Regions from separate parts of the Homo sapiens genome. Here region 2 is reported to be linked to region 1. Evidence: microRNA targets listed by miRTarBase, many of them from high-throughput screens and not tested one by one. Region 1 holds a microRNA gene; the other region holds the end of a gene's coding sequence.
The links. Region 1 holds the annotated microRNA hsa-miR-1178-3p (UUGCUCACUGUUCUUCCCUAG, at 2,274-2,294, shown strand). A microRNA usually pairs through its seed, bases 2 to 8, with sites in the 3' UTR of a target mRNA and lowers its output. Matches are read on the target gene's strand: a 7mer-m8 pairs with bases 2 to 8, a 7mer-A1 pairs with bases 2 to 7 and ends in A, and an 8mer does both.

Region 2: miRTarBase lists ZNF486 as a target of hsa-miR-1178-3p. The part of its 3' UTR that is shown has no 7-base or 8-base seed match.

The regions. Positions count from the first base shown.
Region 1 is chr12:119,710,558-119,715,942 of GRCh38, reverse strand. It overlaps MIR1178 (microRNA 1178), which reads left to right and starts at 2,219; the gene lies at 2,219-2,309. It overlaps CIT (citron rho-interacting serine/threonine kinase), which reads left to right. Exons shown (of 48, transcript NM_001206999.2): 33 at 1,609-1,746; 34 at 2,295-2,475; 35 at 2,649-2,740; 36 at 3,248-3,352; 37 at 3,596-3,765; 38 at 5,323-5,385.
Region 2 is chr19:20,196,885-20,202,269 of GRCh38, forward strand. It overlaps ZNF486 (zinc finger protein 486), which reads left to right. Exons shown (of 4, transcript NM_052852.4): 4 at 80-3,604. The coding sequence ends at 1,218. The region is part of intron 5 of LOC105372310 (a long non-coding RNA gene); the gene reads right to left. It also overlaps the pseudogene LOC100419841. Among named protein-coding and RNA genes, the nearest start is that of ZNF486, 32 kb to the left of the region's middle.

The DNA.
Region 1 (5,385 bases):
GCATTCCTGTTATTTATTCCTTGCACCTTTCCAAGAAAGGAAGGGGGGTGATGTTGTAAGGAGAGCCTACCGTATAGTCAGTCAATCTCCTACCAGTAACATGTTCTTAAAGCCTGATTCCTAATCACTGGATAATGGAGATTTTAAGTTGAGTCTTATAAATCTAGATGCATCTGTTAGTGTTAATACTTTCAAAATCTGTAACTAACCTGTTCTAATGGTTTTAACAGTTTCATTCAGATGTAATTTGCATACCGTACAGTTCGCTCATTAAAAATGTACAATTCAGTCTTTTTCAGTAAGTTTACAGGGTTGTGTAACCCTCATCACATTCTAATTTTTGAACAATTTTGACACCCCCCCACCCAAAAAATACTCCATACACATTATCAGTCCCCCGCCATTCTCCTTCCACTAATGTTCTTCTTAGCAACCACCAATCTACTTTCTGTCTCTGTCGATCTGCTCTCTTAGACATTTCATAAAGATGAATCATACTGCATGCGGCCTTTGTGTCTGGCTTCTTTCATGGAATGTAATGTTTTCAAGGTTCACCCATGTTGTAGCATGTATCAGAACTTCATTCCTTTCATGGCTGAATAATACTCCATTGTGTAGATGGCACATCTGATTATCCATTAATCCATTTTCATTAGTCCATTTTCACACTGCTGATAAAGACATGCCCAAGACTGGGTAATTTATAAAGAAAAAGAGGTGTAATAGACTCACAGTTCCATGTGGCTGGGGAGGCCTCACAATCATGGTGGAAGGCAAAAGGCATGTCTCATGTGGCGGTGACAAAAGAGAATAAGAACCAAGCGAGAGGGGTTTCCCCTTATAAAACTATCAGATCTTATTCACTACCACAAGAACAGTATGGGGGAAACCACCCGCATGATTCAGTTATCTCCCACCAAGTCCCTCCCAACACATGGGAATTATGGCAGCTGCAATTCAAGATGAGATTTGGGTGGGGACACAGCCAAACCATATCACCATTGGTGGACATTTGTGTTGTTTTCACTTTGTAGTTGTCATAAATTATGCTGCTGTGAACATTTATGTACAGATTTTTGTGGGTACATATGTTTTCAGTCCCCTTGGATATATAGCCAGGAGCGGAATTGCTGGGTTCTGGGGTAACTATGTTTAACCTTTTACAGAACTACCAGACTGAGTTCCAAAGTGGCTGCACCATTTTTACATTCTCACCAGGAATGTGTGAGGGTTCCAGTTTCTCCACATCCTCATCAACACTTATCTTCCTTTTTTTAGACTGTAGACATCCTAGTGGTTGTGAAGTGGTGTCTGCTTGGGGTTTTGATTCACATCTCTCTAACGACTGATAATGTTGAGCATCTTTTCATTTGCTCGTTGGCCATTTATCCTCTTCGGGGAGGTGTCTATTTAAATTCTTGGCCCATTTTAAAATTGGGTTGTCCTTTTATTATTGAGTTGTAAGAGTTCTTTATGTATTCTAGATATGAGTCCCTTATCAGAGATTTGATTTGCAAGTATTTTTTCCCTTTCTGTGGGTTGTCTTTTCACTTTCCTGATGGGATCATTTGCAGTACTCTAATGATTTTTTAAAACATTTTCCTCCAGAATTTAGTCGGCGTCTTAAGGAACGCATGCACCACAATATTCCTCACCGATTCAACGTAGGACTGAACATGCGAGCCACAAAGTGTGCTGTGTGTCTGGATACCGTGCACTTTGGACGCCAGGCATCCAAATGTCTCGGTAAGATCAGTAGTTGTGCATCTGTGCTGGGCACCTGTGCATCTCCAGCTTAAAAAGTCTATCAGGTGGAGGTGATTTTTTTCTAACTCATCATATAGTGCATTCATTTTCGAGCTTCTTACTTCAGTAGGAGGATGCTATTTTTCCCCTGTTGAAGCTGTGAGTTTATATATGTCTGCAGCTCATGACTCCAGCCTGCTGCTCAGAGTGCCTTAGGCTTTGCTAATTTCCAGCCCCTTTTTGTCAGGCTGGTCTCTCCCTACCTTTCCGCTGACTCCAACTGAAACATGCAAACGTGTTCTTTACACACCTGTTTGTGGGCGGTCTGGATTGAAGCCTGGAAAACTGGGTCAAGAGCACTTGGCACTTTTGTTTTCCCTTTCTGCAGGGGCCTGGCACCAGGGGAAGCTCAGGAGACTACCTGCAAGCCAGGGCCAGACTCTCTGGGCCCGGCTGGGGTAGAGAAGCCCAGGCGTTGGCTGGCAGAGGAAGGGAAGGGTCCAGGGTCAGCTGAGCATGCCCTCAGGTTGCTCACTGTTCTTCCCTAGAATGTCAGGTGATGTGTCACCCCAAGTGCTCCACGTGCTTGCCAGCCACCTGCGGCTTGCCTGCTGAATATGCCACACACTTCACCGAGGCCTTCTGCCGTGACAAAATGAACTCCCCAGGTCTCCAGACCAAGGAGCCCAGCAGCAGCTTGCACCTGGAAGGGTGGATGAAGGTGCCCAGGTACCATGTCAGGGTGGCTTGGGCTGGAGCAGGTGCTGGCACAAGCCACTCTGTCCCTGATGTTTTCTAGGGAAGTGTCTTTTCTAGGAACTCTGCCACCCCCTCATCCTATCCTCCAGCCGGATGTTTCTTCTGAGTTCAGACATTTTTCTTTTCCATCTTTCTTTCCCCAGGAATAACAAACGAGGACAGCAAGGCTGGGACAGGAAGTACATTGTCCTGGAGGGATCAAAAGTCCTCATTTATGACAATGAAGCCAGAGAAGGTAAATTAATAATTCAGGGGGAAGGTCATTGCACGTGGCTAACCCAGGTCTCCCCAGTGCTGGCGCGAAGGCTTTGTTTTTTGGACTGCCTTGCAAGCCTTCTACGCTTTTCCATTTTTGAAACTTACAAACCAAATGACTTCTCTAAAGGTTATTGGTGCGATACTCACATCTATAGGTCTCCCCCCTGAAGAACCCGCAGGGCGCTGCCCTGAAGATTCCACCTGCTAATACACCTTCCGAGAACTTCTGCCTCAGTCAACTAACCCATAAATCCGCATCGTCATCAGAAATTTGACTGTGCTACTCATCTGACACACTTTATTTTTTTTTATCTTCCCTCTCTGCCTTCTCTGCACACCTCTGTCCCTTCCTTGTTCTCGTGCGCCTCTCTTTACACACGTACCCTGTCTCTCTCTCCCTTGCTGTCTCTCTCGCTCTCTCTTCTCCCCTTGTTCTTGTTCCTGTTCTTTTGTTTTTCTTTCTGCCCTTCCTCTTTGCACCAAGCTGGACAGAGGCCGGTGGAAGAATTTGAGCTGTGCCTTCCCGACGGGGATGTATCTATTCATGGTGCCGTTGGTGCTTCCGAACTCGCAAATACAGCCAAAGCAGGTGAGGAGGAGCCGGAGGAGCCCCGCCCTGGAGGTGGGCCGGGCTTGGCCAATCAGCAGGGACAGAAGGGGTGGTACAGGGAAGATTGGCTCTGCAAAGGAGGCCCATCTTCCTCCGCTCCCCGCCTTGGCGGTAACTGGGATTTGCGTGGTTTGGTGGGCATCTTTGATCTCTCAGGCCCGTCCCTCCCAGTGGGAACGGGGGAAATCCACACCCAATCCTGTGCTCTCTGAAATCTCCTAGATGTCCCATACATACTGAAGATGGAATCTCACCCGCACACCACCTGCTGGCCCGGGAGAACCCTCTACTTGCTAGCTCCCAGCTTCCCTGACAAACAGCGCTGGGTCACCGCCTTAGAATCAGTTGTCGCAGGTGGGAGAGTTTCTAGGGAAAAAGCAGAAGCTGATGCTGTGAGTATGAAAGCGGGCCCTGGAGGTTGTCTTTGTAAAGGGGGCTGACTTGGTAACTGGTGTTAACGACGAGAATCCCATTGGCCATTTTGATTCCCCTCAGGCTCTCTCTCTGAGGGCTGATGGCTCTAGACTGTGTCATGGCCAGGAGTCTGGTGGTGATGAAGGCACAAGCACCAAGGTAGCTTGTGTGGCATCATGATCCATTTAGAATGTGGGAATCAGGGATGCGGTGGCTCATGCCTGTGGTCCCAGTGACCCAGGAGGCCAAGGCAGGAGGATCACTTGAGCCCAGGAGTTTGAAACCAGACTGGGCAAGATAGCAAGATCCCATCTCTTAAAAAAAGAGAAAGAAAGAAAGTTAGCCAGGTGTGGTGACATGCACCTGTAGTTCCAGCTAGTAGGGAGGCTGAGGCCGGCGGATTGCCCAGGAGTTTGAGGCTGCAGTGAGCTACGATTGTGCCACTGTACTCCAGCCTGGGCAACAGAGCGAGGCATGGACTGTAAAAGCAAAGGAAAAAGAATGGGGGAATCGGCATCAGTAGCCTACTCTGGTGGCATTGTAGACCTTGGTTGTGGTGATGCAGCAGCAAATGTACTTATAAGGAAATCCTCTCTCCTGTTTACTCAAATGAGTTTGTCTGGTTTGAAGGCTTGAGTTAGAAGCACTTTGGCCACGAAGCAGCACAATAGGCTGCCGGCAGCTGTGTCCCCTCCAGGAAGGCTTTTCATAAGCATCTCAGTTGTTTTTGCAGTATTTGCTCTTCCGTAGGCAGGTTTGGAGTCCTACTTATCCTTAAGCTGTTAGAAACGTAGGTGTGCTGTGATTGGCATCACCCCACCTAAAATGTTCCAGGATACAAACAGTGCTCATTGCTCATTGACGTTTGCTCCAGCGAAGACCAAACAGCTCTTTTCAGACTCTTCACTCCTAATAAACACTTTATGTGTTAGCAATTGGCAGATTCTTAACCACAAGCCTCCTGAAAAGGGCTTTACTCAGTGGTTAGACCTGTTTGGATGACTTGTTGGTCGTTTCACACGTGAGCTTTTACTGAAATCCTTGTTAATATGTGTACAATAGGCCCGCGACTGTGTTTCTTACGAGCTTCTGCCTGCCTGGGTTCAGGTAAAGAGATGCAGAGGCGTGCTGGCTCGCTGCTAACACGGCGCCTTTGCACTTCTGCTGCAGCCTTATGGGGGAAGGAGTCTTTCATGTGTCTTATTAACCCTGCGCAGGTGAAATCTCCTTAGCTTCAGCTTATTTCTTATTACAGAATAGCTTTCCATGTCTACTACCCTCCCTTATTTCTGCATCCCAGCCAAATTATAACTCAGATGCTAATTAACAGCTGCCCCAGAGATACCAATAGCACTCGCATTTTGCATTTGGAGCTCAGATCAAAATACGGGCTGAGCTAAGAGCATATGTGCGTTTCTGAGCATTTCCAGGAATAACTTGGCCTTAACCTTCTCTTGGTTTCTCTGGATGGTTTGGTCATAAACAGATCAGCCTCACGATGTCTTCTGTTTTTCTTTTCTTTCACCTATGAAAAGAAACTGCTTGGAAACTCCCTGCTGAAACTGGAAGGTGATGACCGTCTAGACATGAACTGCACG
Region 2 (5,385 bases), not on the chromosome of region 1:
AATTTTATAGGTTAGATTTGTAAAGTATATTTATCTGAGTCTAGCAATTGAAGTAATGTGTTTTTATTGTTTCTTTCAGTTGTGTGTTCTCATTTTGCCCAAGACCTTTGGCCAGAGCAGAGCATAAAAGATTCTTACCAAAAAGTGATACTGAGAAAATTTGAAAAATGTGGACATGGCAATTTACACTTTAAAAAAGGCTGTGAAAGTGTGGATGAGTGTAAGTTACACAAAAGAGGTTATAATGGACTTAACCAATGTTTGACAACTACCCAGAGCAAAATATTTCAATGTGGTAAATATGTGAAAGTCTTTCATCAATTTTCAAATTCAAAGAGACATAAAAGAAGACATACTGAAAAAAAACCTTTGAAATATATAGAAGGTGACAAAGCTTTTAACCAGTCCTCAACCCATACTACACATAAAAAAATTGATACTGGAGAGAAACCATACAAATGTGAAGAATGTGGCAAAGCCTTCAACCGGTCCTCACACCTTACTACACATAAGATAACTCATACTAGAGAGAAACCCTACAAATGTGAAGAATGTGGCAAAGTCTTTAAGTACTTCTCTAGCTTTACTACACATAAGAAAATTCATAGTGGAGAGAAACCCTACATTTGTGAAGAATGTGGCAAAGCCTTTATGTACCCCTATACCCTTACTACACATAAGATAATCCATACTGGAGAGCAACCCTACAAATGTAAAGAATGTGACAAAGCTTTTAACCATCCTGCAACTCTTTCTTCACATAAGAAAATTCATACTGGAGAGAAACCGTACACGTGTGATAAATGTGGCAAAGCCTTTATTTCATCCTCGATCCTTAGTAAACATGAGAAGATTCATACGGGAGAGAAACCCTACAAATGTGAAGAATGTGGCAAAGCCTTCACCCGCTCCTCACACCTTACTATGCATAAGATAATTCATACTGGAGAGAAACCATACAAATGTGAAGAATGTGGCAAAGCCTTTACATGGTCTGCAGGCCTCCATAAACATAGGAGAACTCATACTGGAGAGAAACCCTACAAATGTGAAGAATGTGGCAAAGCGTATACTACATCCTCAAATCTAACTGAACATAAGACAACTCATACTGGAGAGAAACCTTACAAATGTAAAGAATGTGGCAAAGCTTTTAACTGGTCCTCAGACCTTAATAAACATAAGAGAATTCATATTGGACAGAAACCAAGAACGTGACAAAGGATTATTTTATTATTATTATTTTTTTGAGAGGTAATTCTGCTGTTGTTTCCCAGGCTGGAGTGCAATGGCATAATTTTGGCTCACCACAACCTCCACCTTCTGGGTTCAAGTAACTCTCCTTAGTAGCTAGGATTACAGGGCTGCACCACCACACCTGGCTAATTTTGTATTTTTAGTAGAGATGGGGTTTCTCCATGTTGGTCAGGCTGGTCTCAATCTCCTAACCTCAGGTGGTCTGCCTGCTTTGGCCTCCCAAAGTGTTGGGGTTACAGGCATGAGCCACTGTGCCTGGCTGACAAAGCTTTTTAAGGAAGTTCTCAACCCTTATTACACATAATTCATACTGGACAGAAACCCTACAAGTGTGAAGAATGTGGCAAGCCTGTAACAAGTTCTCAATTCTTTTATTTTTATTTGTTTATTTATTTTTTGAGATGCAGTTTCACTCTTGTGACCCGGGCTGTAGTGCAATGGCATGATCTTGGCTTACTGTGACCTCTGCCTCCTGGGTTCAAGCCATTCTCCTGCCTCAGCCTCCCAAGTAGCTGGGATTACAGGTGCCACCACCATTCCCAGCTAATTTTTGTATTTTTAGTAGAGATGGGCTTTTGCCATATTTGCCAGGCTGGTCTCAAACTCCTGACCTCAGGTGATCCACTCGCCTCGGCTTCCTAAAGTGCTGGGATGACAGGCATGAGCCTCAATTCCCAGCCATAAGCTCTTAATTCTTAAGAGACATGGCGATAATTCATGGTGAAGAGGAACTTTACAAACCTGAAAGATGTGACAGTGCTTTTCCCAACACCTCCAACTTTTCTATGCATAAAAAAAATTATACTACACCATAGAAATGTATGAAATGTGACAAAGCCTTTATATGGTTGCCACACTTTATTGTAGGTAATTCATACTTCCAAAATACCTACAAGTATGAAGAATGTGGCAAAACTTTTAATCAGTGCTTACACCGTATTTCACAGGAAAGCTATTATCCTTGAGAAAAATTGTACAAATATAAAGAATATGGAAAAGCCATTAATGTCCATCACATCTTACTCAACAGAAGAAGGTTCATAAAAGAGCAATTACTGTGACAAAAATCTTTCAGAAAATATAAGCCTTTAAGGTGAAGAAGAGTATTGATTCTGAAGACAAGCATTACAAATATAAAGAGGTTTGTAGTACCTTTGCTTGTATTACAGATCTTATTGCCCGCGTTTTGTATTAGAAGGAAACCCTAAAGCGGTTGCCAAACTTTGTGCAACATCAGGGAATGTATATTGAAGAAGATTCCTGCAAATGTAATGAGTTTGGAAACACTTCTTAGATAAATTATTTGTGGCTGGGCACAGTGGCTCATGCCTGTAATCCCAGCACTTTGGGAGGCCAAGGTGGGAGGATCACCTGATGTCGGGAGTTTGAGATCAGACTGACCAAAACGGAGAAACCCAGTCTCTACTGAAAATATAAAATTAGCCATGCATGGTGGCACATGCCTGTAATCCCAGCTACTCAGGAGGCTTGAACCCTGGAGGCAGAGGTTGTGGTGAGTCGAGATCATTGCACTCCAGCCTGGGCAATAAGAGTGAAACTCTGTCTCCAGGAAAAAAAAAAATTTATTTGTGTATAACTTTAAAAGCAGATTTTTGGAAGCATTGTAATTACATTAAAAGTATACTTGTTCCAGCTGCGTGTGGTGGCTCATGCCTGTAATCCCAACACTTTGGGAGGCCAAGGCAGGTGGATCACGAGGTCAGGAGTTCAAGACCATCTTGGCCAAGATGGTGAAACCCTGTCTGTACTAAAAATACAAAAATTAGCCATGCATGGTGGCCGGCGCGTATAATCCCAGCTGCTTGGGAGGCTGAGGCAGAGAATTGGAATTGCTTGAACCTGGGAGGTGGAGGTTGCAGTGAGCCGAGGTTGCACCATTGTCCAGCCTGGGCAACAGAGCAAGACTCCATCTCAAAAAAAAAAGTGTATTTGTTTCCTTAAAAAAATTTTTCTGAAAAGTGGGTAATGACATAATACAGCTTTCAAATTACTTTATGCTGTTATTTTATTCTTATTGTATTCACATGTGAAAGCATGTGATCAATTTTTGCTGCATCAGAGATATTAGAGATAGTTTTTTATTAATTGGGCATTTATGACCTTTTCTATAAAAGTAAGGACATTAAAATGTAAGATGCATGATGAAAATATAAGTGGAGAGGCTCTTTGTAGTTAACCTATATGAAGTAATGTATAAGGTAGGTCAGAGTAATACTTTTCTACATTATAGTGCAAGAAATAATTATTGATAAAAGTATATTAAACTAAATTCGTATATTTTACTTATTGTACTTTTATGTAATAAAATGCAGTGCATTTAAAAATTGTTAGATTATGTGTGAATTTAATTTTATGTTTTTTACCATGTTAAGACTATTGTGCATTTAATGAAGCATTATTATGCCACTAACCTATCCCACCTTACTCAAAGGTGTAGGTAAAAGATGGTAGCAATATACTATTTGGTACATAATGGAATAATGTCTCTAGTAATCACTTTGCCAGTGGCTTTAAACAGCAAATGAATTTAAGAATATTGTTCCCATAGGTTAAATTTTTATTCTCTTTTCTTACTGAAATTTATTATTAGTATTTGTGAGTATATAGTATATGTATATATTTATGCTTTATATGGCATATTTTGATTCAGGCCTATAATATGTAGTAACTACATTAGGGTAAATAAGGTATCTATCACCTCTAGCATTTATCCTTTGTATTAAAAACAGTGTAATTATATACTTTTAGTTATTTTAAAATGTACAATAAATTGTTATTGACTACAGGGTTATTTTTATGATCATAATAAAAATTATACAGAAATATAAATAAAATACAGCCAGGCCCAGTGGCTCATGCCTGTAATCCCAATACTTTGGGAGGACAAGGCAGGTGGATTGCCTGAGGTCAGGAGTTCAAGACTGGCCTGGCCAACGTGGTGAAACCTCGTCTACTAAAAATACAAAATATAGTTGGGCATTGTGGTGCATGTTTGGAGGCTGAGGCAGGAGATTCACTTGTAACTGGGAGCTGGAGGTTGCACTGAGCTGAGATTGCACCACTTCACTCCAGCCTGGGCAACAGACTCAATCTCAAGAAAAAAAGAAATAGAAATCATACATATACTGAAAACTTATTAATAAATGTTTGTTATATGGTTTTCTTTGAACATGTGGTCTTTGCCTGCAAATGTAGACTTTCAGTGTTAATTTACATCAGTTAAATATACACATATTACTCTGAAGATAAACCTTAGATGTAAGAAACTTATGGAGTGTGTTTGTGTGAGCATGAGATTGTACATATTTTCAGAAGAAAAGAACAATTATTGGAACAAAACAAATTATTTTAATAAGGTGGCTAATAAAAAACTAAGCTCCTTGAGAATGCTGAAAGCAAATCTATGCTTTCTGCTTTGTCTTGAATTTATTAATATAAAATTTTATGGCTTATGTTTCAAATTTTTTTCAGAATCTGTCTATTAAAGTACAGGCAGCTTTGTCTCCAGAAACAACGCTCTTGAGTACAACAATAAAAGCCCTCTTCAAACAGAAAACAAATAATCATAGTTAACACTTGTTTTAATGAAAATTCAACCAAAATTAAATAATTAGATATATTTTTATTGTCCTATGTGTGTGTGAATGTATAAAATGGTGCATAAAGGAAAAATATGCCAGAAAAAAAGTTAATATTTGTAATGAATAAAACTGGAAATTAGTTCATTATTTGCAGGTGATATCTTTGTTTATGTAGATAACAAAAGCAGCAGAAAACTTTCACGGAGTCTCTCTCTGTTGCCCAGGGTGGGGTGGAGTGCAGTGGTGCGATCTCGGCTCACTGCAAGCTCCGCATCCCGGGTTCACGCTGTTCTCCTGCCTCAGCCTTCCGAGTAGCTGGGACTACAGGCGCCCGCCACCACGCCCAGCTAATTTTTTGTATTTTTAGTAGAGACGGGGTTTCGCCGTGTTAGCCAGGATGGTCTTGATCTCCTGACCTCATGATCCACCCGCCTTGGCCTCCCAAAGTGCTGGGATTACAGGCGTGAGCCACTGCACCCGGCCAAAACCTTTTTTTTTTTTTCCAAAGAATTATAAATAGAAGATT